Homo sapiens: one gene and its partner. The protein of the gene in region 1 interacts with the protein of each later gene in a pairwise test. Each region holds a gene or a part of one and is shown on either strand. Other genes may lie near its edges.

Evidence for each region.
Region 2: the proteins of HACD1 (region 1) and TECR interact in binary tests that used the Homo sapiens proteins (3 or more experiments, as listed by UniProt).

The regions. Positions count from the first base shown.
Region 1 is NC_000010.11:17,610,566-17,614,474, forward strand, and holds part of HACD1 (very-long-chain (3R)-3-hydroxyacyl-CoA dehydratase 1), read right to left. Parts: intron 1-3,909.
Region 2 is NC_000019.10:14,560,587-14,564,495, forward strand, and holds part of TECR (very-long-chain enoyl-CoA reductase), read left to right. Parts: intron 1-1,938; coding exon 1,939-1,989; intron 1,990-2,554; exon of another isoform or gene 2,555-2,587; coding exon of another isoform or gene 2,588-2,619; coding exon 2,620-2,671; intron 2,672-3,071; coding exon 3,072-3,116; intron 3,117-3,213; coding exon 3,214-3,317; intron 3,318-3,395; coding exon 3,396-3,511; intron 3,512-3,595; coding exon 3,596-3,701; intron 3,702-3,909. UniProt on the Homo sapiens protein: Involved in both the production of very long-chain fatty acids for sphingolipid synthesis and the degradation of the sphingosine moiety in sphingolipids through the sphingosine 1-phosphate metabolic pathway.

The DNA of each region.
Region 1 (3,909 bases):
TTGAGCCTGGGAGGCTGAGCAGTGAGCTGAGCTGGTGCTACTGCACTCCAGAGCCAGACTCTGTCTCAAAAAAAAAAAAAAGTACAATTTTAAATAAACCACTAGGAATAAAAATGAACATTTGTAAACATCCACTGTGCATCAGGCATCCTGCTAAGAACTTCATATCCATTATCTCTTTATTCCTTTATAATCTAGCTAAGTAGTTGTGCTGTTCCAACTTTACAGATGAGAAAACTAAGAGTCAGAGAGGTTAAGTAGCTTATCTGAGGTTACCCAGCTACAAAGGAATGAGACACAACCTTTAAACAACACCTTTGTGTATTGTGTACAGACTAAAATCCAAACATGTTAGCAAAGCATCTGAGGCCCAGTGCAATGCCCCAAGCTACCTGTCCGCCTTCATTTCCCACTCTACACTTCAGGTCCTCTTCTTTTTTTTTTTTTTTTTTTTTGAGACAGTCTCGCTCTGTTGCCCAGGCTGGAGTGCAGTGGCATGGTCTCGGATCACTGCAACCTCTGCCTCCCGGGTTCAAGAGATTCTCCTGCCTCAGTCTCCCGAGTAGCTGGGACTACAGGTGCACGCCACCACACCCAGCTAATTTTTTGTATTTTTAGTAGAGACAGGGTTTCACTGTGTTAGCCAGGATGGTCTCGATCTCCTGACCTCGTGATCCGCCTGCTTCAGCCTCAAGTGCTGGGATTACAGGCATGAGCCACCGCGCCCGGCCCAAGCCCTCTTCTTGATGCCTCAACAGATGTCTTGCAATTTCAGATCTCTGTCCTCTAACTCATGCTGTTTCCCCACTTATGCCTACTTAAGTCCTTCACCGCTCAGTTTAAATGCTGTGATCTCTCACAGAAAACTTTCTCTAATTCTCCCTACCTGTCTGTCCTCTGACACATCTGCTTAGCACTTATCTCATTATTTTATTGCAATTGTTGTTTATATATTAATGCCCCAGGTTACCCTGCTTCAAGGACAGGGCCTAAAGTATTTGAAGGACAATGCATTTATATATACGGGCACAAAAGTATTTGTCAGAAAGAAAGAGAGAGGGAGGGAGAGAAATGCTCACTTCCCTATTATGAGCAAGTGCCATAAAAATCCTTACATCTGGCCAGGTGTGGTGGCTCACGCCTATAATCCCAGCACTTTGGGAGGCCGAGGCAGGCAGATCACGAGGTTAGGAGATCGAGACCATCCTGGCTAACACGGTGAAACCCCGTCTCTACTAAAAATACAAAAAAATTAGCCAGGCGTGGTGGGGGGTGCCTGTAGTCCCAGCTACTCGGGAGGCTGAGGCAGGAGAATGGCATGAACCCGGGAGGCGGAGCTTGCAGTGAGCTGAGATCGCACCACTGCACTCCAGCCTGGGTGACAGAGCGAGACTCTGTCTTGAAAAAAAAAAAAATCCTTACATCTGCCAGGCATGGTAGCACTCACCTGTAATCCCAGCTACTCATGAGGCTAATGCAGGAAGTCACTTGAGCCCAGGAGTTTGACGCCAGCCTAGGCAACAAAGCTAAACTCCATCTCAAAAAAAAAAAAAAAAAAAAAAAAACCCTAAAAAATCCTTACATCCTTTAAAGGTGTAATTCTTCTTCCAGGAATTTATTACACTAAGCCACGAATTGAACAGAAACAAATAAAAGCAAAATGTCGTTAGGCGCATGATTTAATCCATTATTGTATAATTAATTCTATACACTCAAATGTAACTGTCAAAAAGTATAATTATGAAAAACAGATGAAAACCTGACAGACTATTAAGTGAAAATGGAAAAATATACAATACAGCAGATATTATAACAGCAATGCTGTAATACATTCACTCATTCATTCATTCAAATATTTATTGAGTACTTCTTGGAGTTTACACTCTAATGGAGATGACAGACAATAAGCATTGCGAATAAGTAAAATATATTGTACAATCATATGAAAGAAAGTGGGATGGAGAAAAATAAACAGGCAAGGGAGATAAGGAGTATGTGTTTCACTATTCAAATTAAGATGACCAGGTAAGGCCTCCTTGAGAATGAAGTTTTGAGTAAAAACTTGGAAGAGGGGGCCGGGCGCGGTGGCTCATGCCTGTAATCCCAGCACTTTGGGAGGGCGAGGCGGGCGGATCACGATGTCAGGAGATCAAGACCAACCTGGCCAACACGGTGAAATCCCGTATCTACTAAAAATCCAAAAAAAATTAGCCGGGCGTGGTGGCGGGCGCCAGTAGTCCCAGCTACTCAGGAGACTGAGGCAGGAGAATGGCGAGAATCCGGGAGGCGGAACTTGCAGTGAGCCGAGATCTCCCCACTGCACTCCAGCTGGGTGATAGAGCAAGACTCCGTCTCAAAAAAAAAAAAACAAAAACAAAAACAAAAAAACTTGGAAGAGGTCAAATATTCATATGAAAGATAAAAAGAAAATGAAAGTGTGTGATAGGCTGATAAAATAACAAGCTGTATTTTACATTTATGTAAAATTTTATAATATTTCTTAAATACTATTCCGTTGCTTTGCAATTTGGGGTGTGTGTGTGTGTGTGTGTGTGTGTGTGTGTGTGTGTGTGTGTGTGTGTTTTGTTTTTGAGATGGGGTCTCGCTTTGCTGCCCAGGCTGGTCTTAAACTACTGGACTCAAGCAATCCTCCTGCCTCAGTCTCCTGAGTAGCTGGGATTACAGGTGCATACCACTGTTCCCCACTTGTTTTGAAAATTATTACAAAAAAATTAATAAACACGCCAAAGTTCTGTTAACAGAGAAATAAGTTAAATGAACAAAAAGAGCCTCAACTAGTCTTCTGCTGTCCACCCTATAAAACGTGTAAGTTCTTGTCCCGATTTCAACACTACAACTTCTTCAACCTTATTTACCACTATTCCCCAACAGCACCCTCCAGTTCAATCAAGAGAATACATCAGGCTTGCATATCATGCCTATTTCCAGAATTTATATCACCTGAAATGTCTACTCTCTATGTATGCAAATCTTATTCCTTCTTCAAATCTCACCGCCTCTAGAAAGCATCTGAAGAGTCAGTTACAGAGATTATTCCATTTCAATATCCCTTATTTTTGTAAATATGACAAGGAAACTTCTCAGTAGAGGCAGAAGGAGACAAGTTTAGAACAAGCCCTGATTTGCCGGGGAAGGGTCAGAGGGACAGAATGGAGAAAGCATTTAATTCTGCACCAGGTAAGGCAGGAGACCCGGAAAACTTCAAAGAGGTAGATTTGATTAGAAGTCATGGGAATAACAGGAGAACATTATACAAAAGTGAAAAACCTGAGCACAGAAGCAGAGCGCTGTGAAAATACATGGTGCTTTGAGGGACGAGTGAGTCAGAGATATCAAATGCAAGTTGACTGGAAAGGGGAATCGGGAGCAGATTGCAAAAAGCCTTGAATGGCAGATAGCCTGAATCCCTTAGATCAGGGTGGAGGTGGCAGGGAGTCACTGAAGTCTTTAAACTGGAGCTATGCATTGATGTTCATTTTTGAAATATCAGTTGGCTTTCAAGACAGAGAGTCAACTGAAAAGAGAAAGGACAGACACCCAGTTAACACAAGGCAGATATTTCAAAATGTTCACTGGCTGGGCACGGTGGCTCACACCTGTAATCCCAGCACTTTGGGAAGCCATTGTGGGAGGATCACTTGAGAACATCCTGGGCAATATAGCAAAAACCTGTCTTTACAGAAATTATTATTATTATTGTTTTATTTTTTTGTGTGAGACAGAGTGCAGACTGGAGTGCAGTGGCACGATCTCTCAGCCTCCTGGGTTCAAGCGATTATCGTGCCTCAGCCTTCCAAGCAGCTGAGATTACAGGCCTGTGCCACCATGCCCGGCTAATTTTTGTATTTTTAATAGAGACGGGGTTTTGCCATGTTGGCTAGGCTGGTC
Region 2 (3,909 bases), on another chromosome or scaffold:
TGCCAGCTCTTTGGCCTTGTTATCGCTGTGGCTTGGAGGAGTTCAGTAACCTTCCCCTAGAGGCCACAAGGCCAGGCAGTGCCTGGAGTTGACAGCAGGGACTCAGGAGGCCCCGTGGGCCAGGATTTCCTGGCTGCTGGGCCCATTCCCACCCTCCTGTCCAGGAAGTGGGGGCGAGTGTGTCATGGCTGGGGAAATAGGCCCCCATGCTGTGGTGACTGCCAGGCCAGCAGGGGAGTGGGGATCTGAACCAAACCCACGGGCAACAATGCCTCCTATCCCATGGGGTGCCTCCCATCTGTCAGGGGTCACCTAGTGTACCCCATGCATTGTCTCAGGGGACCGTCACAGTCCTGGGAGGTAGTCTGCTTCCTACCTGCCCCCTTCTGAGGCCTAGAGAGAGGTGACATGCCTGGGGTCCCCCAGGGACTACAAGGCAGGGCTGGTTACGGTTCCCGAGTGCAGGCCACCAAGCCCCCTTGTCTCCCGCTGTCGTTGGGAATGTGCAGGAGGGGTACCCAGCTTCTCTGGCTTGACCGTGGTGCCCTCATCTTCAGGATGGGCCCTAGCTGCCGTGGCCCGGTCTCCCTGGGCTCTGGGTGGGTGGGCCTGCCCTGGGATGGCCCCAGCCCAGAGGTTTGTTTCTGAGCATTGTGTCCTGCTCCTTTTCCTCAGGCAGCCTCTGGGGGCCCCCGCTGGGTTTCTGTGGGTAGGAAGGGTCCCCCAAGAATTGCTGGCTGGTGGCTGACTTGGGATCAGGCCTGCCTGCTTGCCACGACCCCTGTATAATAGGATTGCACTGACCCCTGCATAGGGTGGGTCAGATCCCCGGGGGCTGCCTCCCTCCAGCCCTGCCCCTCTGCACCCCCATCGTTCATCACTGGCCTGGGGGCTCAGGGAGGGCTGGGCCAGACTCCTACCTCAGGGGCTGGCACAGGCCTGGCTCTTGGACGCAGGAAGCGCCGGGCTTTAGTGGGGCGCAGGTCCTGGGTGAGGGTGCAGTGTTTGGGCTGACTCAGTGGAAAGCCTGCCCCACAGGTGGCTATAAGGTGAGAAGTGGGTGGGGAGGAAGGTTGGGGAGACCTCATCAGCCCAAGCTGGAGGCGGTTGCCTAAAACTTCCACACACCCCGATCCTTTCCACACTTCGAGAGAGGCTCTCTGCACCCATAACTCCAGAATCTGTCACCTCCCTGGTAACACAAATGCACAAGGAAAATAATCCAAAGTGTCTCTTACAGCTCAGAAGGGGAAATGGATGATCTGTCTCGCGGATTCTCAAAATAGCTGGGATTTCTCCAAGCCCAGTGAACTCCCTAGGCCTGAGCTGCGGGCTGGGGCCTGCACGGCCCGCTGGCCTCTCACTCTCCTCTAGCCACTGGCTCTGTGCAGGGCGGGGGCTGGGAGGTGTTGTCATGCCTGCCCCTGGGGCTTTCCCTGTGCTGGTGCCGTTGAGGGTTTTGAGGTGACCACTCAAAAGCTGCTTTCAGGGCAGCCTGGCTCCCCGGGGAGACTCCCAAGCCCCCCTCAGAGAAGGTCTGTGGCATGGCTCCTGGGGGGCGCAGTCTGGGGTGGTTTTATATTTAGCTGGGCTGTGGCTGTGGTTGCCACTCGGGTTACATCTGGCACAGAAGTCGGCAGTGCCAGGGCCGGCACGGGCTCCTTTCCAGCACCGCGGCAGAATTTGATCGCGCTTGCCCGGCCCAGGGCTGCTTCCCGTGGGGAGGTCGGTGGTGGGGGCTGACGGCCGGCAGCTGGGGCTGCTGGCCACCGTGGGCAGAGCCGAGTGGCAGGGCTGGTGGCAGGCGGCATGGACTTGAACTTGAGCTTGTTGGCCCGGGAGGCCACCCCAGGCCTCCTCCCTGGCCTCAATGGGCTCCCCAGGCCCACACCCCCAAAGGTGGCCAAGAAACCTAAAAAGGCTGTTCTCTTCTTCGAGGTGGAGATTCTGGACGCAAAGACAAGGGAGAAGCTGTGTTTCTTGGACAAGGTAGGACTGGGGCGTGGGCTGCACTGGGCCAAGGGCACTGGGCCCGGGACCCCAATCCTTATAGCCCAGGAGCTGTCCAGTGGGGCCCTTTGTGCCCCACCCCCTGCCCTATGGAGGGGTATGCCCTCACTTGGGGTAGGGTGGATAGCCATGTCCCCTGGGTGTGGCGGGGAAATGGAGGCACAGGAGTCTCAGTGGACCCTGCGGGGATTTTGGTCCTGGGAGGGCGGTGGAGGAGTGAGCCTTGCCCCTGCTGAGGCCGGGCCTGGGGGAAGGGGCTTGCGCTGTCCCTGGGGAGGACAGAGGGCCTTTGCTCCTGGGAGAGTCATGGGTGAGAAGTGGAGAGGAGGGGCAGAGAAGCAGGCTTGCCTTCCCATGCTTAATCCGCCACTAGCCGGGCTGGGGGCCTGCTGGCTGAGGGTAAAAGTGGAGCCCCAGACCCCTGCTGTCACTGCACTGGCAGGGCCCTCGGTGGTCCTTCCCTGACTGCAGGCAGAGGCCTGGACCCCAGCCCTTCCCCCTTCCCATAGCTACAGCCCAACCCCCAGCCTGCCATCCCCTTTAGTACCTCCCCATCCTGAGTCTGGGCTCCCCGCAGAGCTGACGTCCCTGCGCCTGTGCTTCCCCCAGGTGGAGCCCCACGCCACCATTGCGGAGATCAAGAACCTCTTCACTAAGACCCGTGAGTTCTAGTCCCGGCCACACTGCCCCTGCAACCCCTTTGACCAGGGACCTTAGGGTGGGAGGGATCCCATCCTGCACCCCTCTCCCAGGGGCCTGCAGAGATGCCCCAGTGTGGCCCAGGCTTCTGGGGCGTGACTGGGGCAGGCGCCTCCACGTGGCACTCCGCAGGAACGCCCTTGCTAGGCTCTGGGAAGGACAAGATCCTGCTTCTGCCCGCGCTCTTCTGGCTTGTGTCCTGAAACCGCACAAGCCTGAGGGTTTGCCCCCAGGTGGGAGGAGCTGTGGAGTCCTGGGGTCCTTGCACCCTGGGAACCCTGAGAAGCTGGCACAGTGGCTGGGCAGCGGACCGGCTGAGCCCTGCCAGGCTGTGGGCTGTAACTGCCCTGTTCTCCCCGCAGATCCGCAGTGGTACCCCGCCCGCCAGTCCCTCCGCCTGGACCCCAGTGAGTACAGCTGTCCACTCGGCCCGCCCCCTGGGCTCCTGGGTGGCAGTGGGAGAAGGCCCGGGTAGCCCCTGAGCCCTGGCCCGCCTCTCTGCAGAGGGCAAGTCCCTGAAGGATGAGGATGTTCTGCAGAAGCTGCCCGTGGGCACCACGGCCACACTGTACTTCCGGGACCTGGGGGCCCAGATCAGCTGGGTGACGGTGAGTCCTGACCCTACCCACGGCCTCTTTTCCCGTCAGCCACGTTGGGTGACTCATCTTGCCCCCCTCTACTCTCAGGTCTTCCTAACAGAGTACGCGGGGCCCCTTTTCATCTACCTGCTCTTCTACTTCCGAGTGCCCTTCATCTATGGCCACAAATATGACTTTACGTCCAGTCGGCATACAGTGGTGCAGTAAGTGGGGCAGGTGGGAGGAGGGTAGGGGAAGGCAGAAGACCTGCCGGACCAGCCCCAGCTGAGCCTGCTCCCCCCGACCAGCCTCGCCTGCATCTGTCACTCATTCCACTACATCAAGCGCCTGCTGGAGACGCTCTTCGTGCACCGCTTCTCCCATGGCACTATGCCTTTGCGCAACATCTTCAAGGTGAGAGCCCGTCCCCGCCTCACCCCTAAGCCCCGCCTTTCTGCCCCACCCCGCCCCGCCCCCACCGAGCCCCACCCCAAGGCCCTTCCTGTCTGCCACTACGCCCCAGCAGAGCCCTACCCCTAGGCCCCGCCTAACCTCCCCAGCCCCGCCCTCGCAGAGCCTCTAGACCCCGCCCGTCCTCCCCAGCCCCGCCCCCGTCGGGCCC